Regions from separate parts of the Homo sapiens genome. Here regions 2 and 3 are each linked to region 1. Evidence: fine-mapped expression QTL. A gene starts in region 1. Each other region holds a variant in brackets. All regions are shown on one strand. Distances are from middle to middle.

Region 1 (8,000 bases):
ACAAGGGCAGGAAATCTCAGAGAGTGGAAAATGTCATAAAGAGAATAAAGCAGGGTGAAGTGATTGTGATAGGGCAGTGTGGAGGAGGCCACATTTGAGCTGGGATGTTAATAGACCAGGAGCCCCAGGAGAGCAAGGCATTGGTCTCTCTCGTTCATGGCTGTATCCCAGCCATAGCTGGTGCCCAGCAGGTACTCAGTGAATATTTTTGAATGAATGAATGAATGGGCTCCTGAACCAAGCTAGGCATGTCCCCACCACAGGGCCTTTGCATGCGCTGTTTCCTCTACCTGTTCCCCAGCATGTGTAAAGGCCCTGTGGTGTGGACATGCCTAGTGTGGTTCAGAAGCCCATTCTCCCTACAACTCTACTGTATCCCTGCAGGCTTTTGTGTCTTATCAGGAGCTGAGGATATCTGGCCTGCCTGATGTGCCCTGGCTGTCCCCTCTCTAAAACACAGGAGGGAATATGCCCAACTCCCAGCAGACAACTCCTGCAATCCCTCTTTCCTTTGGTTGGACCCCAAGTCTTTTTTTTTTTTTTTTTTTGAGACATGGTCTCACTGTTTCACCGAGGTTGGAGTACAGTGGCACAATCATGGCTCACTGCAGCCTCGACCTCCTGGGCTCAAGCAATCCTCCCACCTCAGTCTCCCAAGTAGTTGGGACTACAGGCATGCACCACAACACCCAGCTAATTTTGTTTATTTTTTATTTTGGTAAAGACGGGTTTTTGCCATGTTGCCCAGGCTGGTCTTGAACTCCTGGGCTCAAGTGGTCTGACTATCTTGGCCTCCCTCAGTACTGGGATTACAGGTGTGAGCCACCACGCCCGGCTCTCCCATCAGTCTTTCAGAGACATGCCCAACCTGAGAAAAGTGTATTGTAAGAGTGCAGTGAATGCTGGGAGCTGAGCTACTGGGTTTCAAACTCTGGTTGGCCATGGGCTAGTTGAGCACCACACACTGGATGGCTTAGATTCTCTCACAGTTCTGTAGGCTACAAGTTTGAAATCCAGCTGTCAGCAAGGCCATGCTCCTTCCAGCACTCAGTATGGTAAGCCAGAGATCCCTCCAGAGACTCAAGAGGGCAAGCTCGTAATTCTCCCAGGATCCATCACTCAACATCACAGACTCATTTAACAGGAGGCTGCAAAGAGGGGCAGGTGCAGTCATTCCTCACACAAGGATTTACTGAGCACCTACAATGTGCCAGGCACTGTTCTAAGTGCTGGGACATGGCCCTAAACAAGACAGACACTGTTTGCTCTTGCCTTTTTGTGGATCTGACACCCTTTGGGGAGGGAGGCAGATAAGCTGGTGCACCAATGAGTAAAGAAGATGGTTTTAAAGAGTGGCAAATGCCCCAAGAAAAATACAACCAGGAGATGCAGCAGTGAGGAGGGATGGTGACACAATCTCACTAGTCAGTCTCATTGCAGACCTCAGAGCAAGTGTGGCCAGATAAGTAAGAAATGTTCCATGGTCGGGCACAGTGGCTCATGCCTATAATCCCAGCACTTTGGGAGACCGAGGTGGGTGGATCACCTGAGGCCAGGAGTTCAAGGCCAGCCTAACCAACATAGCAAAACCCCGTCTCTACTAGAAATACAAAAATTAGCTAGGTGTGCACCTGTGATCCCAGTTACTTGGGAGGCTAAGGCACAAGAATCGCCTGAACCTGGGAGGTGGAGGTTGCAGTGAGCTGAGATCACACCAGTGCACTCCGGCCTGTGTGACAGAGCAAGATCCTGTCTCAAAAAATAAATAAATAAAAAATAAAAAAAGGAAGAAAGAAAGAAATATTCCAGGGTATGGAACAGCAGTCTTCTTGACTCTGCCATGGGAGTGACAGCCGAGGTCCAGTGGCCCAATGAGGGCAGAAGACATTGGGATGTGAGCCAGGAGGCGCCTCTAACCTGGGCTCTGTCCTCAGGCACTGTGGGACCCCTATGTCCTCCCTTCTGGACAGGGAGGTGGGGAGATGTGTGATTGTGGACTTTTCTAGATGCTGCCTGCCAAGATCACAGGGTGACCTGGCATCCCAGCTCCCACAGAGCCCACACCACCGTGTCTGGCAGGGTTGGGGGAGATCCCACCTCCACTCCCTGAGGCCATATTCTGCAAGGGGGAAGGAGCTGGGTCCTCAAGGTGTTTTGCTCCTGATTCGGTAGCCCCAGTGCCATCTATGAATAAGGTTCAGGGGAGGGGAGAGGGACAGAGACCTCCATCAGGCTGGGGGCACCCTGACCCTGAGCTGAGGGCTTCTCAGATCGGGACCGTGCCTGGCGATGATGCCTCCTGCTCTGACAGGAGGGAGAAAATTACTAGAGAGTGCTCTTTTGTTTTCTGTTCACTCCTTAGAGCCCTGTGAGGCCAGCCAGATGTGGGGAAATGGGGACACCTGGATGAGACCTACCACTTCTCCTGGTCTTCTTTCACCCCAGGCCCCTGCCCCTAGAACAGCCCAGAAGTCCTGACGGGAGGGGGAGGAGCAAGCTGGCCTGAGACAACCCCACAAAGGATCCTGGATGCAGTCACCCACATCAGGCTTCTTAATATTCCCATGGATAATGACAATGACAGTTAACCAGGCACTCACCACGTACCAATAAGTGCTGGCACCCGAGTCCTTGCAATCTAATTTAATCCTACCTTTGCAGAAATACACAATTACCTGAAAAGAATATGAAGGTGTATAGATATAAAAACTGAGGACTGGGAGGAGGACCAGATGGGGTCCAGTACTTACTGTTTTACAGACATAGAAACCGAGGCTCCATTCTCAGCCATCTTCTTCCCTTATGCCCCAGTTTTTAATTCTCATGACATTCCAGAGGGAGTGTCCGTTGGAACACCACCAGAGACACCACACTTGCCACTCATGAAGTGCTCCCTACTTGCAGAACGTCTGCTCCCTGTTCCCCAGTTCCAGCCTCCCAGCCGCCCTACTGTAAGCTGGATCATGTCACAGTTTGCCTCATTTTACAGACAGAAAACCCCCCAAGTCCAAGGGGTGACAAGGCACGCAGACAGGAAGTGACGGCCGCAAAACGAACCCAAGCGTCCACATCCTTCGTCCCTGGTTCTTTCCATGGAGAAACCTGCCTGGGTGACCCCTTCCAATCCAGCTGGCTGGGGCGGTCCTGGAGCTCACCTGGACCTATGCCAGGCGGAATGCCATAAAACCACGCCTTCATGCTGTGTCCATTCTCCAGGAGGCAGGCCCCGGAACATCAGCCCATTTCACAGATGGTGACCCAGAGGGCCACAGGGGGGGAGGGTCTGGGCCAAGTTCCCTGTTGGTCATAGGTGGGGTTCAGACCCAGGTCTCCCAGGCCTCCCCATCAGGGCAGGCTGCAGCTGCCAGGGATTACAATCTGCGCACACCGCCTGTTTCCTGAAAACCATGGGCTCCCTGCAGTCCGTGAAGCTGTGGATGCCCAAGGGGCAGAAAAAGCCCCCCAACCTTTGATGACAGCACACACCTCTAAGGGAGCAAAAAACTAAGGCAGACAAAAAAAAGGGCGTTTTGTCTGGAAGATCATTCTTCCAGACCCCTTGTCCCTTCCCCCAGTACATATGGGGCAGGGGATTCAGATGCAAGATGAACACCCTATTAGCTACCAGAGCCAGCAGCATCTGTGACCTTGGGCAAATCACAGCCCCCTTTGAAGCAGCCCCTTCCCCATAGGAGAGCTTCTTGAACTCGGGGGGACGTGGAGCGAGGCTGGGGGATGGGGTGGGAAGAGCAGGGAAGAGGGTGTAAGACCCCTCTATTTTCAGAGGAGCATCGCTGTGAGAAACGGGGAATAAGAGAGGGCCTTGTTCGCCCGCTCTCTCCATGCCCACCCCCACACCCCCTTTAAACACACAGGTGCCAGACAGCTTTTTCGCAAAAACTAGTTTGCAAACACACTCCGACTTCTGGGAAGCTGCCCAGCTCCACTCCCCCTCTGCGCTCCCAGTACCGGGGCTGGGAGCCGGCCCTCCGGCAGTTGCCTGGGGCAGGGGGTGGGTGTTGAGGGGTGGGAGGAGGGCAGAGGGGAGCGGAGAGGAGCCAGCGCCCGCCGAGAGCCAGGGCGACCTCACGCCTTCAGCAGCTGCGGCAGCGGCGGGTCTCCACCTCCCGTACGCCCTCCAAGCCCCTCGGGGCGGGTGGAAGGGTCCCCAAAGCAGCTGGGCTCGGACCCCCGAGGGCGCCCCCCTCCCCAGGGACCCCGCCCGCCCTTCCCCGCAGTCCGGGAGCCGGCGGGGCGCCCCCGCGTGGCCGGGTCGGAGCTGAGTCACCGAAGCGCCGGAGTCCGGGTTCGCGCTGGCGGCGGGGGCTAGAGCGCCGCAGCCCCCCGAGGCGGAACCCGGGTTCCTTCGGACCCGCAGCTGGATCAAAGAGCCCAGCCCCAAGGCCGAAGTTGGGCACTCACGCCAAGCTGCCCCGCCTGCCCGGGCCCCACTCACCGCAGGTCCCGCGGGCGCCACCGCCCTCACCGCACGGCTGCCGCTGCCCGCGCTCCGAGCCGCCCGGGCATCCCCGGGAGCTGCTCCTGCTCGGCCGGGCCCGCGGGCGCGGGACAGGCTCAGGGCGCTGCCCGCGCGGCCACGGCCCGCTCGCGTGCGCTCCCAGCCGCTCGGGGTCCGGTCCTCCTCCCGGGCCGGGCGGGCGGGCGGCGGCGGCGGCGGCGGCTCGGGCTCCTCCCTCCGGCCGAGGAGGGGAGTGGGGAGGGAAGTGGGAGGCGAGGCGGGAGCTTCCTGGAGGGGCGCGCGCTCTCCCACGGGAGGAGCGGGGGCGCTGTCCCGCCCGCAGTCCGCCGCTCCCAGCCCGCGCCCGGCGCGCCGCGGCACTCGGGGCGCCTGGCACCGAGGGGGCCCGAACGTTCGGGCCGAACGCGAGGGTCCGAAGGTTCCAGGCTGGGACTCAGGTGGCTGAGGATCGGAACAACGCGGCTTCGCGCCCTCCCCAGGCCTGCTTTGCCCGAGCCTCTGGCACCTCCGAGTTCCGAGCGCCGTGCGCTCAGGGCCACCGACGCGGGAACAGAGGGGTGGCCTCAGCCCGGGCCTGCGGGGCCCCAGGGCCGCTTGGACCCCCAGCGCCGATGGGAGCGGCGCTGCGCCCTCGGGGCAACACCCAAGGCTGGGTTCTGGGTTGTATTGGGCAGGATTAGGGCCGCAGTGTTTTCTTCCCTTTTTTTTTTCAATAGCAAAAGAGCTCGGCATTTTCTTGCCGCCAGAGATTGGAAATATGACATATTTCTCTGACACAGACGATAAGATAAAGACGGATCCGAACTGGGCCTGGGTCTACTCATCCGTGCGGAAAATTAGGCGAGTCTTTAAGGCCTTGGAGCCCAGGCCTCCTTTTCCCTAGAAGAGGCACCAATTCTTAGGACACTTGTCTGTCGCTGGGCGCTCAAGCCTTTGGCCACTCCGCGGTATTTAGGTGCTCTCTGGGCAAGTTCACCACCGGGCATCAGAAGGCTGAGCCTCACGTAACCAGATTCTGGGGGGCGGGGCTTTCCCGGGGATCTCAAGGCCATGTCCACAGCCCTTGGCCCTGGGGCTCAAGGACTGGGCAGCTGAGGGTTAATGCCGAGTGCTTCCATTGTGGCTTTTCGATTCCAGGCAGGTGAGGGTTAATGTGGGAGCCTCGCGCGCTGCAGCCTGTGAGCCTCCCTCCACGTCTGAGTCACTGGCACTTTGCAGCCTTACAGGGGCCGAGACTAAACAGCCCCCGGGGCTCTGAGCTTTGTTCTCTGCCTGCCTGTCACCCATCCATCTTTCCTTTCTCCAAGCTCTCTTCACCTTTCTTCCACCGAAGCCAATCAAAGCCCTCTGCCCCGCTCTGGGGCAAACCAACCTATCAACCCAACTCCAGCCCCGCTTCCTCCAGGAAGACTTTCCTGATTGCTCTGGCCTCAGAATCTGTCTCTTGTCTTTCCAGCAGCAGGAGAGCCAGGCACTGGGATGGACAGTGGTGAACCAAAGCAGATAGTCTCTCTCAAGTTGCTCACCTGTGGGGGCCAAGATCAGGACCCAGGCCATCATATCACCATATGAAATGTGCAAAGATTGGAGGTAGGGTGGCACAGAAGACCCAACTCAGCCATGGGAGTCAGCGAGGCTTCCTTTAAGAAACCTGAAGGATGAGATAGTTGGGCCTGTCAAGGAAGATACTAGATCCCTAGCCAAGGAGGCAGAGTACAAAGGCCAGGGGTCACAGCAATTCCACTCCTAGATATCTACCCGGGAGAAATGAAAACATATGGCCACACAAAACATACACAAATGTACGTAGCAGCATTATTCATAATAGCCAAAAAGTGGAAACCACGCAAATGTTCATCCACTGATGAATGGAAAAACAAAATGTGGTATATCCACACAACATAGAATATTATACAGCCATAGAAAGGTACGAATTACTGGCCAGTTGTGGTGGCTCACACCTGTAATCCCAGCACTTTGGGAGGCCAAGGCGGGCGATTACTTGAGGTCGGGAATTCAAGACCAGCTTGGCCAACATGGCAAAACTCTGTCTCTACTAAAAATATAACAATTAGCCAGGCGTAGTGGCAAGAACCTGTAATCCCAGCAATTCGGAAGGCAGGAAGGAGAATCACTTGAGCCCAAGAGGCGGAAGTTGCAGCCAAGATTGCGCCACTGTACTCCAGCCTGGGTGACAGAGGGAGATTCCATCCCCCCTCCAAAAAAAAAAAGAAAGGAAAAAAAGAAAGGTGGGAAGTACTGATACATGCTACAGTATGGACAAACTTGGAAAATATTATGCCCAGTGAAAGAAGCCAGTCTCAGACAAATATTACATGGCTCCATTTAGATGAAATGTCCAGAATAGACAAATCCACAAACAGACAAAGCAGATTTGTGGTTGCCTCGGCCGGGGAGTGGAGAATGGGGAGTGATTGCTATTGGCAAAGGGTTTCTTTGGGAGATGATAAAAAATGTTCTAAAGTTAGATTCTAGGCAGAGTGCGGTCCTGCCTGTAATCCCAGCACTTTGGGAGGCCGAGGCAGACAGATTACTTGAGGCAAGGAGTTCAAGACCAGCCTGAGCAACATAGTGAGACCCCACCATCTCTACCAAAAAAAAAAAAAAAATTAGCCGGGTGTGGTACCTGCCTGTAGTCCCAGTTAGGAGGCTGAGGTGGGAGGATTGCTTAGGAGGTTGAGGCTGTGGTGAGCCATGATCACACCACTGCACTCCGGCCGGGGTGACAGAACAAGACCCTGTATGAAAAAAAAAAAAAGTTAGATTATAGTGATGATTGCACAACTGTAGGTATTCTTAAAACCACTGACTTACACACTTTAAAAGGACAAATGTCATGGTGTATGGATTATATCCCCATAAAGCTATCTTTAAAAAAAAGGCCAGGGATCAGGAGAGCCCTGAAGAAGTTGATTAAGGCCAAGGATCCATCACAGGTTGATTCTACATGCTTTATCCTCATTCCACACCCAACACAAGACTGCAAAATGTTAAACGAAGTCTTTCCCTGCCCAGGTGGAGACCTCTCAGTGCACAGTGGGAGGCCTGAAGGCCCCGAAATAGACCCATGTCAGGGTATGTGTGTCAACACCTGCCATCTGGGTGTTTATTTTCACAGTCCAGGCTGTTTGGACAAACGGATCAGAATACCCAGGTTTGCCCATGCATGTCAGTGTGCTCGTGAATGAAAGACACATTGAAGGAGCGCCAGCTGTTCAGGGATCTGGCTGGGCCAGGAGTGTGTGAGGACTGGCGGAGGGAGGGTGTTCCAGTTATTTATGTTGCATCGCAGATCACCCCAAAACTTATCCCTCACACTTCCGGGGTCCTCAGGGCTCATCGAGGGCAGGTGTTGCACAGTGTTTCCCATACAGTTGCAGTCAGATCATGGTGGTGGCTGAAATTGTCTAGAAGGCTTTCTTGAACATATGGCTATCACTGGACGCTGGCTGTCATCTGGAACCTCAGCTGGAATTGTCAGCTGGAACACCTACCTGAG
Region 2 (8,000 bases), 68 kb after region 1:
CTGTGGCCCTGACTCACCCAGAGCCCTGAGCCAAGCGCATTCCTCTCTGACCTCACTTTCCCCACCTGTTCACAAGCCAGCCTTGCCTGGGTTCCTAGCTGGGGAGACAGATGAGTTGAGGGGAGTGAGGGTGATTAAGAACAATGGTGGGTGATGAAAGACAAAATTAAAGTCACTTTCAATAGCCAGGGAAGAAAAATGTCAACAAGTTCAGTACTTCTGAACCTTGGCTTAATCACGGTTCACAGATGCCCAGCCGAGACGACAATAGGGACTGTGGTCCAACTTATTATTTTCACTCAACAAGTGCTGAACCTTAGTGACAGGCTGCATCTGTGTGGATGAAGTGGTGCCTTCTCTAAATGTCATAAAGGTGCCATATAAACTAGCAGCGTTCTGCCAGGGAGGAGGGTCACTGGTCCCACTCCTCCCCATGGTACTGAGTCCCAGACACAGGGCAGGAGTATATTTGTGCATACAAGCTTAGTTAGTTAGAGTGTGCTGGCATCAAAATGTGTACATGTAGTTAAAGGTGCATGTGTGCGCTGCATACATGTGCACACCTATGAGTGGGCATGTGTGGGTGCATATTCTTGCATATGCCTGTGTACTTCTGTGCAAGTGTAGACATGTGTGAACAAATGTGAAGGTGTGTGGTGCTTCATGTAGTTATGTGTACCCACAGTGCCTGATTCCTGCCTACGCACTGCTATCCCTTCTCCTGGGATTTCAGAAAGAGGGAGGGAGCCTTAACACTCATGCTCCTCCAAGACAGTCTAAAATATTAGATGAAGGAAGCCTTGCTCTGGGGACTCTGGGAGCCTTGGGTTTGGACTCAGCCCTACTGAGTACTTGGACTGATGCCTTCCCTCTCTGGGTCTCACTGAAAAACTACTGGTCAGACTTGGAGGAACATGCAGGCCCCAGGGGGACTCTGGGACCTGGGCAGTGGCTCATCTCCCCAGTCAGTGAGCCCTCCTGGAGATCACTCACCTGACTTCTTTCAGCTGTGGACAGAGAGGCAAAGCTTTCACCAGGTGGCTGATGCCTCGGGCAGTGATTTTACTTCCTGCTAACCTACAGAGTAAGCAAAGATGGTGGGGAGGAACGAGGAGGGGAAAAGGGCGGGGCCAGGAATCTGCCTTGTGTAGGATTAAGGAGAGGGAGGAGAGTACCAGGCATCCCCAGCTGAAGACCCTTCTCAGCTCCAAGGCCTGGCTCACCCCAGCATCTGCAGCCTCCCCATTGTCGGCAAGCTCCTGGAGAGGGCTTCTGCAAAGGCATCCCCACACTTCCTGCTCTTAAAGCTGCCATAAGAAGAAGCGAAGTGTCAGAGGATCAGTGCTGGGCAGAGCTGAGAAGTCATCGCCATCCCCTCAGAGAGATGGGGCTTAATACAGTAGTACTAACAAATACATATTATGGCCGAGACTTCTAATCGTCCACCAAAGCCCATTCTCCACTTCATCTACAGCAATAGAGCTATCATGAGGAACATGGTTTCCCAGCCAGAGATCACATTTCCCAGCCTCCCTTGCAGCTCAGTGTGGCCAGGTGACTATGTTCTCACCAATGGAATGTGAGTGGAAGGGATGTATCCTAGTTTCAGGACTGAACTTTAATGCATTGACATGTTCCTCCATGCTCTTTCCTTGTTCCCAAGCCAGAGCACAGATATACCCATGACGTAGCTTTGACTGTGCAGATAGGATTCCCAAGGGGATAATGGAGCAAAATGGGAGGGACCTGGGTACCTGCATGACTGCGTGGAGCTGAGCCATTCCACTGACCTGGACCACCTACCTCTGACTCTTCCATGAGAGAGAAATAAAATTCTACATTATTTAACCTACTGTATTTGGGGAGGAGGTTTCTCTGTTACTGCAGCCTAGCCTTTTCTCTAGCTAATATGCACACTGAGCCTTTGCTCTGTGCTAGGCACTGTGCTACAAAATGTTTTTCATGCACCATCCCATCTCATTCTTGCAATGACCATATGAGTTGGCTATTGTTACAGATTCGTTTTAGGAACGAAGAAACTCTGGCCTAGACAGTGTGCATGTGTGTGCTCCATATACTTGCCCAAAGTCCACCAGCCTCTATAGACAGCCTGGATCTGTGGTTTCAGCCCATGATTGACAGAGAGACTGAGAGTCCAGAAACCACAGACAAGAGGAGGATCCATTTGGACTCCAGAGGTCCTGTCAAGGTATGGAGCTTCCTCTCTTGCATTGCAGGCCATTATGTTCTGATATTCAAGATTCTTATCCAGTCCTCTTGGCAGAGGTTTGCTAGACTGGTTGGCCTCTGCTCCCCCAAAAGCCCAATCCCCTCCCCGGTCCTCCTCCACTCTTACTCACCTGAGATTCTCTATCTGCCCACAGCCTACCAGAGCCTCAGGGCAGTGGGGCTCCAGGGGACAGCCATCAAAATCCAGGTGGATGGGGGCCTCCCTGTGCTCTAGGATGTTGGTCAGGGTGGCCAGGTCGGTGCAGGTCAGTGGGAAATTGTGGAAGGGCAGTTGATAGGGGAGGCTTTGTGCGGTGAGACTGGCCAGCTCAGGCTCCTGTGTCTCATCCACACAGTGACACAGCTCTACAACCTTTGGCCCTGTGAGCTTGCGGGTGGCCAACTTCTTCAACACCTGCACTACAGCAGCCTGCTTGGCACCCACACAGTCCTCATTGCCCTGCGCCAGGTGGCTAAGGAAGGGGCGGCAGGTGCAGGATGCCAGGCCCGCCAGGAAGGTGGGGAGGTGGTCTGAGAGGCCCAGTCTAGCTTTGGTCCGCTGTACCCAGCGGGAATGGAGGGTAACATACTGGGTAAGTGTGTCTTTGTTCACCTTGGGGCTGGCCATCAGGTGCAGGGCAGCAAGAAACTCCTGCAGGCTGAGGTGGGTGAAAGCATAGCCTGTCTGCTGGTGCCCAGGGCCTGTGCAGACGCAGAAGGAAGTCAGCAGGCTGTGAGTGGCCCCAAAAGCTATCAAGGGTGGAGCAATATCTTTTGCATAGAAGATAACCTTCCCTGTCTCCAGGCCCCTCAGGGCCACCTCCCCCAGGTCCAGTAGGGACGAGGTGGGCAAGTGCCCAGGGGGGCTGAGGGCGAGCACCATCTGCATATAGAGCTGAGTCATGTTGGGCAGGAGGGCCACAGACTGGCCTGGGGCGTGGTCAGGAAGCAGATGGTGGAGGCAGAGACAGGCGACTTGGCACAGTGCGGGCACCGCACACAGGCTTCGGAGACGTCCATTTGTCTGTAACTCCACCAGGGCCCCCTCCCGCGATGGCTGGGCGCTGAAGAAGTGATTCACATATTCTTCCACCCGTGGCCCATCAAAGCCCAACATGTGGACCATGGCTGCCTCTGCAGGCAGGCAGGCAGGCAGCTTCCCTGGACGGGAGGTAGCCATCACCCGGCAGCCAGGCAGGAGGGTCCCATTGCAGAGATGGGAGAAAAGGGTGAGGACTGGGCCTGGGCCATCAGGACCCATAGGCTGGAGGGCCTCATCTAGCCCATCAAAGATCAGCAGGACTTGGTCAGCGTTCTTCTCCAGGTACTGGAAGACAGTGTCGTGGTCCGATTCAGGGCTCAGGTACAGATCAAAAAGGAGCTCGGACGGTGTCAGGAACCTCGTGATCAAGTTGAGCTGGCGGAATTCAAAAAGGAACAGGGCCTGGAAACAGTTCAGATGGCCCTCTGCCCACTTCTGGCAGAGCCGGTGGGCCAGCGTGGTCTTGCCCATGCCAGCCTTCCCCAAAAGCACGGTCACCCTCGGGCCCTTGTTAACCCTGGTGTTGAAGAGGTCCGAGATGCTCACGTCAGCACCATCTTCCACCTTGACGTCCCCCATAATGGCCCCCTCCGGAGTGTCTAAGGATGCTGTGGCCCGGCGCAGGATTGGAGGGACATAGACCTGGTGGAAGGCGTGGGGCTGCCCTGACCCAGGGATTTGGCTCCTGTAGCGCTGCTGGGCAGAGGTCCGCAGGAGCTGCAGGTACTTCTTGGCCAACTCTGCAAGGGGCAGGGACATGGCATGAGGAGAGGACCCCCCGGCCCTCTGCTCATGTCTTCTTGCCCCAGTATTGGGCTGTTGGGAGCCTGTAGCCCCAGATGTGTATGTATGATGGGGTGAGGGTGGGGGTGTCAAGAGCACCATAGGGGGATCTGTGCCACCCCAACTTCCAGAAGGAATCAGTTCTAAGGGAGCATAGGCTCTCCGGTAGCTATTTAAACAGGCAGGTGGGAATGGGGAAGTGTGGGTCACGGTTCTATCCATTCTGCAATAGTACACGTGGTGTAAGGGTTCAGTAAGATGGGGGGAGGGGAATAGGGCACCTCCTTTGCAACATCTCTTTTTTTTCTTTTTTCCCAGAGACAGAGTCTCAGTCTTGCCCAGGCTCCAGTGCAGTGGCACGATCCTAGCTTACTGTAGCCGCAAACTCCTGGTCTCAAGTGATCCTCCTGCCTCAGCCTCCTGAGTAGCTGGGACTACAGGTGCACACCACCACACCCAGCTAATTTTTGTATTTTTAGTAGAGACAAGGTTTTGTCACGTTGGCCAGGCTAGTATTGAATTCCTGGGCTCAACTGATCCACCTGCCTCAGCCCTCCAAAGTGCTGGGATTACAGGTGTGAGCCACCGCGCCCAGCTACTTTGCAATATCTTATTGAAACAACCTCTTTCTGTAATATCTGGATCCCCAGTGCC[T/C]CTTCCCAATATTTCAGTTCTGCAATGCCCAGGGGTGAGCACTAACAACCTGTAGGCCTAGGCATTACCGATCGGAACTGTGGGAGCTGGGCCCCTACAGTGCCAGATGTTAACCTTTTAATTCCTGGGTCATTGAGAGGTCTCAGGTGACCCAGGGAAAGGGCTGGGGCTGCTTTTGGGGGAACCCTATGGGGAAAGGCCAAGGTAGTGAACTATTTTGAGCGGATGTGAATCCTCTGGTTATAGCCATGGTTGGCAGCAGTGGGGGCAGAGAAGGCTCTAGTTAGTGGGACAACTCGTGGAGAACGAGGACCATTCTGAGAACTGGTCAAGAATGAGAGAAGTCCCCTTTCTTCTCTCACTGGCCTGGCCTGCCCTAAGCAGCTCCATGTCTCCCCATGGGCCCCCAGGGCCTCTGTCTTGAAGGTTTCTCCCAGGCCTCCTCACCCCTCCCCATCCCTGCTCACCCCCAAACTGGTCTCCTCCCTGGGTCTCCTTCAACACTGAGGACATAGGGTGTCCCTGGAAAAGCCTGGACAGCGAAGCTGAGACCTGTATGGTGCTTCCAGCTCCTTCAGCGGAGCCCTCTTCAGAGAAGTCCCCATGCAGCCAGATGGGTGGGGAGCCCCTTCGCTGCCAGCCCAGGCCTCTCCTCTGCCTGTGCAAGACCTCCAGTCCTTTTCTCCTGGAAACTTGCGAGACAAGAGTCACTGGGCCTCTGGAGGCTTATTGGCAGGGGACAAGGTCCAGGGTCCGGGTCTTGGCCCCCAGGCAACCCCATCTCTCTGTTTATGTTCCTCCCCACACTGGTACCCACCTAGCTGCTGCTTCTTGCACTGCTTCCGGCGGGGTGAGGACCCACAGCTCTGATGTGGGCGCTTCAGGCCTGAAAAAGCAAAGGAAGGGGTGGAGGAGTGGGGTCTGGGGATCTGGGCTGAGGGGTTACCCAGAACCTTTGGGGAACTCCAGTCCACAGACAGGTGGCAGGCAGCCAAGTACACCCACATGCAGGGACTGGAAAGGCAGGCAGCAGGCAGAGGCTGGGTCAACACCAGCTTCTATTTGCAGAGTGGACTTCTAGGCACCCCCATTGGAAGGTGGATGTTCTGGGCCTGGCAGTCTTGCAGTCCAGGATGCAGGAAGCAGGGCCAACAGCCAGCAGCCCCCAGAAACACTCAGCTCCAAGCACTAAATGGCCATCTGTCCATCAGGGAAGGACCAAGCTCTATGGAAGCCGCCGGTGGTCATATAAGTGAAGTTCCCAGTGAGTTTGGCCAGGCCTGCAACCTCCCTCCTCTGTTAGGGTTTTATCATCCCGATTTCTTATCACCCACATTTCCTCACTTCCCTTAATAGTTTCTGGAGTCTTGTCTCATTGTATGGATTTTCAACAATCACTTTAATGCCTTTCTGGAAGAGTTTGAGAAAGGAAGAAGGAAAACAAGAAGGAAGGGGACCCAGAAAGGAAGGGAGGGAGAAAGGAAAGAGGACTCAGGAAAGAATTTTAAGAAGTCAAGCAGGGTCCTCCTACAGCTAAGCTAAGTGACCAATAGGAACAGCCCCTGGAGCAGGGCCCTGGGCTCCTTGTCCAGCTAGGAGGCTGGAACCAGTTCGAGAGCACTTCAATATCTTAACAAATCCTATATTAAAAAGGGACTCACTGGCCAAATATCAATCAGATCTGGTTACAGCCATGAGATAATGATGCCAGCTCAGTGATGCGGGCCTATTGGACCAGGGACTTGGACAGTTTTGATTCACTGGGGAGCTGAGGTTATAGGGTGGGTTTTCTGTTGGCATTACTGCCATGCACAGCGATAAGTAAAGTCAATGCTTCTGTAGAAATCAAGGTGCTGAGATGAAAGTGTGACCCACGAATCAGTAGGTGGTCATTATTTAATCACTGGCCCTTCCGAGCTCCTTCAGAAAATCAGCCAAAGGCTCCCCCGCTGAAGACAGCAGCTGTGGGTGAGTGTCAAGTCCAAGGTGTACAAGTCGGGAGGGGGTGGTTAGGGCTTCCCCATGAAGCCTGACACTTTGGGGCTGGGAGATGAGGCCCTGCGGGTTGCGGGCAGGAAAGTGAGAACAGGCTTCCTGAGGGGTTCCAGGTTAGACCCTTTAGAATTGGTAACGGGACAAGCTAAAGCCTTGAAAGTCACTGCAGGAGGAGGTGGGGCTGGGAGACACAGTTAGGGGCTTGACACACTTGCAAATGGGTCAGGGACAGACGAAGAGCATGGCCTATGAGAAATGGCTGTGACCAGCCACCACAGCCTCCACAGCCTCCTCCAGCTTGGAAGTGGGGACTTCACAGTGCTCACCACCCCCTTCCCACCCCCCAACTCCAGTCCTCACCATGGTGGAGCTGAGATTCAGGTTGGCTTTTCCCCTCAGCTCCCAGCTGGCTGGTGAACCCTGCAAGAGAGGGGAGAGTATAATGTGGTATGGGGCTGTCGAGGGATGCTGGGGACCAGCTCTGGCCTGGCGCCTGGCTCAGGGCTCATCTCACAGGGAGATACCCAGCAAGGGAGAACTAAATGGAACACTCAGTTATCTGTTGTGGAGAAAATGTGGTGGTGAGCTTTGAAGGCAGTGCTGGGCAGAAATGTGTGTATATGCAAGTGCATGCAAGTTTATGTATGTGTGTGCACAGGCATGCATGTGTTATGCATGTGGGCACACTTGCATGCATGTGTACATGGGTTTACGCACATACCCACATGTATATGCACTGTGTGTATCTGCATATGTCTGCACATATGTGCATGCGCCGCCCCGCCCCCCGCAATTCCCACACTCTGCCTTGAAGTAGGGTTCTTAAGTGAGTTCCCATTTTCTCTCCAAAAACGCTGTTGCCCCTCAATGTCCTGTGTTTCCCCTCAGTGCTGTGCAAACAGAAGGTGCCCAAGAAATCCCCACGGATCAGTAGAGGGCAGAAGGCGCTCCCCGTCACTGTTTCTGACCATGTTGCAAAACAAACAAACAAACAAAAACACCTCTAGCCAGGTGTGATGGCTCACATCTATAATCCCAGCACTTTGGGAGGCCAAGGGAGGAGGATCACTTAAGGCCAGGAGTTCAAGACCAGCCTGGGCAACACAGTGATGTCCTGTCTCTACAAAAGAATGAAAAATTAGCCTAATGTGGTGGCATGCACCTATAGTTCTACTGTAGTCTCAGCTACTTGGGAGGCTGAAGTGGGAAGGATCACCTGAGTCCTGGAGTTGGATGCTGTAGTGAGCTATGATTGTGCCACTGCACTCCAGCCTAGGCAACAGAGCAAGACCTTGTC
Region 3 (8,000 bases), 38 kb before region 1:
GTGACCCTCCCTTCCCCTCCCCATCTCTCTTTCTTTCCTCCCACCTCAGCTTCCTGAGTAGCTGGGACCACAGGCATATGCCACCATGCCTGGGTAATTTTTTTAATTTGTAGAAATGGGGTCTCCCTCTATTGCCCAGGCTGGTCTTGAACTCCTAGGCTCAAGTGCTCCTCTTGCCTCAGCTTCCCAAAGTGCTGGGATTACAGGCATGAGCCACAGCATCCGGCCTCTAATAGTTTCTTAACTGTCCCTAGGAGGCTCAGAAATCCTCTTAGGCCCAGGGGTGGGGATGAACACAGACACCATACTCACTTCCCAGCCCCTGCCTCCCCCTGATCCCCCGCCAAGTACTCCCAGAGCAGGGCTGGCCTTCCCAGCAAGGGGGCGGGTGGGAAGGAGGTGAAAGCAGGTGTGTCTGGTGCCACCCTCACCTCCTCCTGGTTTACACAGGACTTCCTGTCAGTGGCTTCCTGTAATTCTCACTGAACCACCCAGTAAAGTGAGAAGAGCAGCTGTCATAGTTATCCTGGAGCAGGTAAGGAGGCAAAGGCCCAGGAGGTACAGTGACCTTTCCAAGGTCCCACAGCTAGGAAGGGCAGCAGCTGGCCTTGAATCCAGGACTATCTGACTCCAAACTGCAGCTCTTCCCCCTCTGTCACTCTGAGCAACAGTAAGGGGGAGGGGAAAGGAGAAAGAAATGAAAACCTGTCCTCTGCCCTCCCTCCACCCAGGGAGCTGGCCAGGCCCGTAGCAAACACAGGGCAGCTGCAGGTGGGTCTGACACTCACCTGAGCAGAAGGGGTTGGTGGGGTTGAAGTTGATGGCAAACTCATGGGAGACCTGAAACGCAGAGAAAACGCTGAGCTGCAGCCTCCCGCCCCCAAACCCAGACCCAGGCCACCACCCACTGCCAGGCCAAGGCTCCCTTTGAGAGCACCGGCTCATAACCCCCACCCCTACCCTCCTCTAGGCCACTGATACCCCCCACATCTGCTTTTCACCTCCACTGCTGGGTGTGACCCACAGAGAGGCCCAACCACCCTCTCCTCATAGTGGAGGAAACTGAGACCCTGGCAGGTCACCCTGGGCTCTTCTGGGGACTGGGGCTGCCTATGCCCCATCAGTCCTCTAAGAGTCCCGGGTGGGACAGGGATTTCCCTGTGGGCCAGGGTTCCAGGATGCTCCCTCATCACTGCTACAGCTGGATGTGGGCTCCACAACTAGAGCACCGCTTCTCTGGGCTTCAGAGGCTTTTCCTACCTTAACAGTAAGCAAAGGGGCTTAGAGGGGAGCCTGCCTTGCGCCAGACAGCCAAACGGGGGTGAGCTGACAGCCCACTCAGAGCTGACCTGGCGATCAGGGAGTGTAAGGGGGCTGCAAGGGGATCAGATGGGGCTATCATAGGCTCCCTAGGGACTCATCCTGCTTCTCTGCCTCCAGGCCCAGCACCCAGCCCCAGAGGATCATCAGAGACTGACCCGGACACTCCGGGACACTGCTGCACCCATCACATCCGGCTGCTGCTGCTCGCATGGCTTCGGGGTATAGAAGGACTCATAACTGGCCCCGTTCAGGGCTGTGGGTGAGACTGCAGTGCCTGCAGAACCCAAGGCCTCGGGAGACGCTGCAGAGCTCAGATGGGGGACAGTCCCTCCTTTCTTCCCTCTCTTGCAGCCCCACAGCCCCAAATCCCCCTCAGCCCCCTTCCTACCATGTACCACATCCGCATTCACTGCTGTGCAGGAATCCCCTTACTCCTTCCTCACAACACCCCAATGGAAGGGCAGCTGTTATCACCTCATCTTATGGATGACAAAACTGAGACACAGAGTGGACTAGAATTTTCCCACATTTCCTGGCGGGCAGAGCTGGGACTCGAACTGAGGTCAGGCTGCTCCCAGAGCTCACGCTAACCTCCAAAGGCATTCCTCCCCCAGGGATTTTCAATGAGGAGGGTGGAGGGGTGCCCCGGTCCTCAGCTGCAGGAGGAGGGCTTTTGTCTGGGCACAGACAATCCCAGACAGACTCTTCAGCTCCAAGACATGACGATGGGGGTACTGGGAGGCTCTCCTGCATCCAGCGTCCCCATTTTACAAATAAACAAACCGAGGCCCAGAAAAGGGAAGCCAGGCACCAGAGCCACACAGTCGAACAGGCCTGAGACCCAGTGCCCTCCCCTCCCCTGGGGGTGGGAGTTGGTCTTACTCCTGGGGGAGAGGGCAGGGACCCAGCAGTGGGGTTCAGTCTGGCCTCCCTGGCAGCCCAGGGGAGGGGAGGTGGTGGGAGGACTCCTCCCCGTTTCAGGCAATGGGGTTTTCTGTTCTTTGCTGTCTGCTTTAGGCGCCCGGCACAGAGCCAGTCCCCTGGTGTCCCTCTTGGGTCCTGTCCCTGTCCAGGGCCCACTTCACCCTGTCCCCAGTCTGGGCTCCAGGTTTGGGGGCTGGAGGTCCCTGTTGCCATGGAGACTTCCTGAGCCTCTATAGAGATTACGAGGGGGGCTTGTATGGAGGGGCTGAGAGAGAAAATGGTTGCCAGGGAAACAGGACTCCCTTGGGCCAAAGTCTTCCTGAAAAATCAGATTTTAGGAGATTTTAGAGACCACAGTGGGAAAGCCCCCTGCTGATAGGGGTGGAGGAATATTTTGCCTTCTCGGGCCCCCCGCTCTTCATCCCCACTCTTCCCCCCTCTTTATTTGGGGAGGGCCCAGCCTTGCGGTCAGGGGGGCTGTGGAAGGTTGTCCATCTGCCCCAGAGGCCCCAGAGGTTGTCTCCTCCAGCAACTCCATTTCATAGCTGGAAAGAGTGAGGTTCCCAGAGGGCCAGGGAGTGCCCAGGTCACACAGTGGGGCCTGGGGACAAGTGTCCATGCTACCAGGAGTGGCAGCTCAGCCCCTCCCATACTGGTTGCCCTGGTTTGCCTGAGAAAAGTCATAAACAGAACAAGTTCCTGGAGGCCACAGAAGCTGATGAGGGGCCCCTGGGGACTGGCTGCCAGCCACAGGCCTTTGTCCTGGGACTCCCTATTGCCTTCTGACAGCCAATGGCCCTGTTCACCCAACCTGGCCTGGCTCAGCCTTGAGGTCAGGGAGTTACTTCAGGCTCAGTTCCCTGTGGCCCTGGCTGAGGCAGGTGGTAGAGGCAGCGGGTGGGGCATGGAGAAAGCCCAAGGGATCTCAGAGTGACTGTCCTCTCTGAGCCTCAGTTTCCCCACCTGCAGAGTATGCTCCCCCTCCTCCCAGACCTTTGCACAGACTGTGCCTTCTGCCCAGATCCCGTTCCTCATCTGAGTAACTCTGCTCACGTTGAAGGGCCAAGACCTCATGCCATCTCCAAAGGGAAACGCGTCCTGAGACCCTCAGCCACTCTCTGGGGCAGGAGTTCTCTCTGGGATCATCTGGGCCACCCTCAGGGAGAAACTGAGGTCTCAAAGGCAGGCAGCCTGGTCACGTGCTCCTTCTGGTTCCTTCTAGCTTCCCACCCTCAGAGAACCGACCCCTCTGTTTGCTCAGGCCTGGGGTCCCAAATTTGGGCTGGGTCCCAAATTCATTCCGTCAACAAACAATGGCACTGCACACTGCAGGCCAGGTGCTGGGATGCAGGCAGAAAGAAACCCAGTGCCTTCCCCAGGCAATCACAAACAAGTCACAGAGTTCCATGAGGGCAGGGCTCTGGGCAGGAAGAAGGGCCCCCATGTGAGTGTGAGCATGGCTCCCAGAGGGCAGGCCACTCCCCGAAATTCTAGGTGAAAATCGGTGGCAGAAGCCCAGGAGAGGGAGCAGCGGGCTGAGTGAAGGCCATGTGCAAAGGCCCTGAGGTGGGAGTGAATGAAGGAGCTTCAGGCAGCAGGAGTGAGGCGAGTCAGAATGCGAGAGAGGGTGAGGGGCCAGGAGGGGCCAGGCCTGGCGGCTCCCATGGCAGGGGGAGGTGGGACACAGCATCTGTCCTTTCCTAGCCTGGACGCAGCATCTTTCTTGGCACCGCCGGGCACTCCAGCCTGGCCAAGCCCTGGCCTCCCCAGCATCGCCCTGTGACATTTACAAGGAGGCTTTTGCTCAAGAAAACATCTCATTCAGTTCTTTGAAAGCTGGCTGGTGTCCTAGCAACGGGCTCGTGCTGGGCCCAGCCGCACCAGCTCGCCCTG[C/T]CCCCCGAATGGCATCACTGTGGCCCAGCTTTGGTCCCATCTGAGGCGTAGCCTCACACCACAGGGAGCCAGGACACCCACATCTCCTGCCCTGGCCCTTGGGCCACTCCCCGAAATTCTAGGTGAAAATCATCCTCCCCAGAGAGGACCAGAGAGGACAGGAGGCAAAAATTCACTCTGGAAACAGCAATGCGGCACAGCAGGGCAGACAAGAAGGGGCACTGGCCGAGCGAGACCCATGTGCAGGCTTAGGAGCTCTCTGGCCTCACACCCCACAGGCTTCTCATGGGGAGGCAACAGTGTCTGAGAAGAAACTTTAGAGTCCAACTGCCCAGTTGGTGAACATGGCCTTGGGCAAGTCATTTTGAGGCTCCAAGCCTCAGTTTATTGCCCTGTAAAATGGGACAGCATTCCCTGCCCATCTGCAGCGACTCCCCAGCATCACAGCTTCTGCCCTCATTGACGTCTCCATCTCTGAGCCACCAAACCACCCCTCCCCTGGTGCCCGTGGTTCTATGAGGAGCCCCCGCCTCCTGCCCCAGGACTACCCACAACCACACCTCAGGGACCCCCGCTTCAATTCACCTCCACGCCTCTCCTGGCTCCTCCTCAGCCTTTAGACCTGCTTGACCTAACCCTTCCCCTCCCTCACAGCCAGTTGACTTCCACGCTGGCTGACTGCCACACTGGCTGATGTCTCCATGCCCTTCTCCCCTCCCCATCTTGTCTCTGCCATAATGGCCCCAGCCATGGTCAGTGAAACGGATGGTCTCTTCTCAGCCTTACCTCACCAGGCCCAGGGGCAGCCTCCAACCCCACTCCCTCCTCCCCGAGCCCTGACTGCTTGGCTTCCTCAACGATCAAAATGGGTTCATAACAGGGCCTACCTCATTGGCTTTGGTGAGAATTAGTTGAAACTGGTAAAGCAGGCAGAGTGGTATCTAGAACATTCTAAGGGCCCAATAAATGCTGCTACTTATGGGTTTGCTTTCTGCCCCTCCCTCCTTCACTTCCTCCCTGCTCTGCCCCCGGGCTCAGTCTCCGCTTCATCTGCCTGGCTCTCTCATGCAGCTGTCTCTTTTTTTATTTTAATTAATTAATTAATTAATTTTTTAGAGACAGAGTCTCACTCTGTCACCCAGGCTGGAGTGCAGTGCACTCATAGCTCACTGGGCTCCAGGGATCTTCCTGCCTCAGCCTCCCGAGTAGCTGGGATTACAGACTCCCGCCACCACACCTAGCTAATTTTTGTATTTTTAGTAGAGACGGGGTTTCACCATGTTGGCCAGGCTGGTCTCGAACTCCTCACCTTGTGATCCACCCTCCTCAGCCTCCCAAAGTGCTAAGATTATAAGTGTGAGCCACTGCACCCAGCCAACTTTTAAATTTTGTAAAGCCAGGGTCTCACTGTGTTGCCCAGACTGGTCTTGAACTCCTGGCTCAAGCAATCCTCCTGCCTTGGCCTCCCAAAGCATGAAATTACAGGTGTGAGCCACTGCACCCCGCCTCATGTGGCTGTTTCTCACTCCACCTGTCTCCCTAGCAATCTCATCCTCCCAGAGGTGGCACCATGGGTCCTGGCCCAGGTGGCCAGGTCTCTCTCTGTCTCCCCAGAGCCCAAACCCATTGACCCATCAACCACTTATCTTTTTTTTTGTAACAGGGTCTCACTCTGTTGCCCAGGCTGGAGTGCAGTGGCACGATCTCGGCTCACTGCAACCACTGCCTCCCGAGTTCAAGTGATTCTCCTGCTTCAGCCTCCCAAGTAGCTGGGATTACAGGCATGTGCCACCACGCTGGGCTAATTTTTGTATTTTTAGTAGAGACGGGGTTTTGCCATGCTGGCCAGGAAGATCTCAAACTCTCTGACCTCAAATGATCCATCTGCCTCAGCGTCCCAAAGTGCTGGGATTATAGGCGTGAGCCACTGTGCCCAGCCATCATCCACCTTTCTCCTGGGACTCCCACCTTACCATCTCCCCTGCTGAGCCTAGCACCCACCCCGTTCCTCATCTCAGTAAGCAGCACCACCCCCGCCTCAGTGCCCAGTTGGAAATCTTGGTGACCTCTTCGGCCCACACTCACTTGGTCACACAGAAAGTCCTGGCCTCTGCCCTGAGTTTCCTTGCCTTCGCCCCTTCTCTCCACCCTCCACTCTGCCCACTCTCGCCCTAGCCACGCCCCACTCAGCAGCCAGGAGAGGCCTTTAGAAATGCCAATCTGCTGATGAGCCCCTATGTGGTCCCTGCAGGGGTCCCCGTGGCCCTTTAACGCCCACATCTGTCTCCACCCTGCTCACCTCCAATGGAGGGTCTATCACCCACCTCTGCCAGTTCCTCCAGCTCGTCCTGCAGGCTTCGCACAGTCTGTTCTCTGCCCTGAAGGCTCCCCCTGCCCCACTGCCACCTCTAGTCACTCTGCTACTTCCCTTTCCCCTCTTGGCTTAGAGCTTGCCCCCTCCAGGAAGCCTGATGGCCCCAAGCTGGGTTGGGTTACCTCCTCGGCTCCCCACAGGCCTACGGTGCCCCCACCTCAGCACCGATGACACTACCTGTCTTTAGTGTTGCCATATAGAATACAGGATGCCCACTATGACTCAGAAACAGAAAACAAAAAACTGCATGTTCTCCCTTATAAGACGGAGCTAAACAATGGGTGCACACAGAACAGACACACAGAGGGGAATAACAGACACTGAGGACTCCACACAGCGAGAGGATGGAGGGGTGACGGATGAAATGCCACCTACTGGGTACAATGTACATTATTTAGGTGATGAATACACTAAAAGTCCATATTTCACACAATACGTCCTCGTAATACAACTATACTTGTACCCCTAGATCCATACAAAACCTTGAATTTCAGATAAACAATGGATGATTTAAGTATAAGTATGTCCCATGAAATATTCAGGACATACTTATACTTTAAAAATTGTTTATCTGCACTGGTCACAGTGGCTCAGGCCTGTAATCCTAGCACTTCGGGAGGCTGAGGCCGGTGGATCACCTGAGGTCAGGAGTTTGAGACCAGCCTGGTCAACATGGTAAAACTCTCTACTAAAAATACAAAAGTTAGCTGCGGGGTGGTGGTGGGCACCTGTAATCCCAGCTACTCGGGAGGCTGAGGCAGGAGAATTGTTTGAACCTGGGAGGCGGAGGTTGCTGTAAGTGGAGATTGTGCCACTGCACTCCAGCCTGGGCAACAGAGCAAGACTCTGTCTCTAAATAAATAAATAAATAAAAATAAACACATAAAAATAAACATTGTTTACCTGAAATTCAAACTTAACTGGGTGTCTTGTATTTTGATTTGCGACATCTGGCAATCCTATCTGTCTCCCCCACTCCACATGGGTCTCATAAACAGAGAACATAACGTGCTGCCCCGTTACAGCCTCAGTGCCTGCCCAAGGATCAGGCTTGAGAAATGAGCGTGGCCTGGGGTGAACACAGGGAAGGCAGGGCAACAGGGCCCCAGCCCAAGACCTTTCCAGAGCTGATCCCCGAGAGGCCACACACACAAACCCCATCTCAACCAAAAGGAAACTAACTCCGGTTTCACTCACCTTCCAGTCTGGGGGTAACTGGGCCCCGAATCCCAGAGCTGGAAACATCTTATCACTAATCAGAGAGAGAAGAGAAACACACTGTAAGACACCTGAGGACACCACCCGACCCTCTGCCCAGGGCTGGGCCCACTCTGCCTCATACACTTCCAAGGACAGAAAGGAGGAGCTCACCACCTCTAGAAAAAGCTGTTAGGATCATCTACCTAATGAGCCCAACCCACCTCTGGGGACCTGGTGAACATGTGGCCTGACCACATCTATACCTGTGGCAGACACGACAATGGTA

What was found. PIP is the estimated chance that this variant, and not a neighbour inherited with it, causes the effect.
Region 2: its variant is fine-mapped to the expression of CPNE2 in whole blood (TOPMed, PIP above 0.99).
Region 3: its variant is fine-mapped to the expression of CPNE2 in tibial nerve (GTEx, PIP 0.97).

The regions. Positions count from the first base shown.
Region 1 is chr16:57,089,247-57,097,246 of GRCh38, reverse strand. It overlaps CPNE2 (copine 2), which reads right to left and starts at 4,664. Exons shown (of 16, transcript NM_152727.6): 1 at 4,457-4,664. RefSeq lists silencers at 4,173-4,582, 4,643-4,692, 4,803-5,052, 5,073-5,142.
Region 2 is chr16:57,021,379-57,029,378 of GRCh38, reverse strand. NLRC5 (NLR family CARD domain containing 5) reads right to left here. Exons shown (of 49, transcript NM_001384950.1): 4 at 7,064-7,123; 5 at 5,526-5,594; 6 at 2,361-4,011; 7 at 1,224-1,307; 8 at 994-1,077. Among named protein-coding and RNA genes, the nearest start is that of NLRC5, 36 kb to the right of the region's middle. RefSeq lists an enhancer at 2,410-2,928. The variant T/C (reference allele first, on the strand shown) is at 4,709.
Region 3 is chr16:57,127,615-57,135,614 of GRCh38, reverse strand. It overlaps CPNE2 (copine 2), which reads right to left. Exons shown (of 16, transcript NM_152727.6): 12 at 7,712-7,766; 13 at 789-840. Among named protein-coding and RNA genes, the nearest start is that of CPNE2, 39 kb to the right of the region's middle. RefSeq lists an enhancer at 333-382. The variant C/T (reference allele first, on the strand shown) is at 4,141.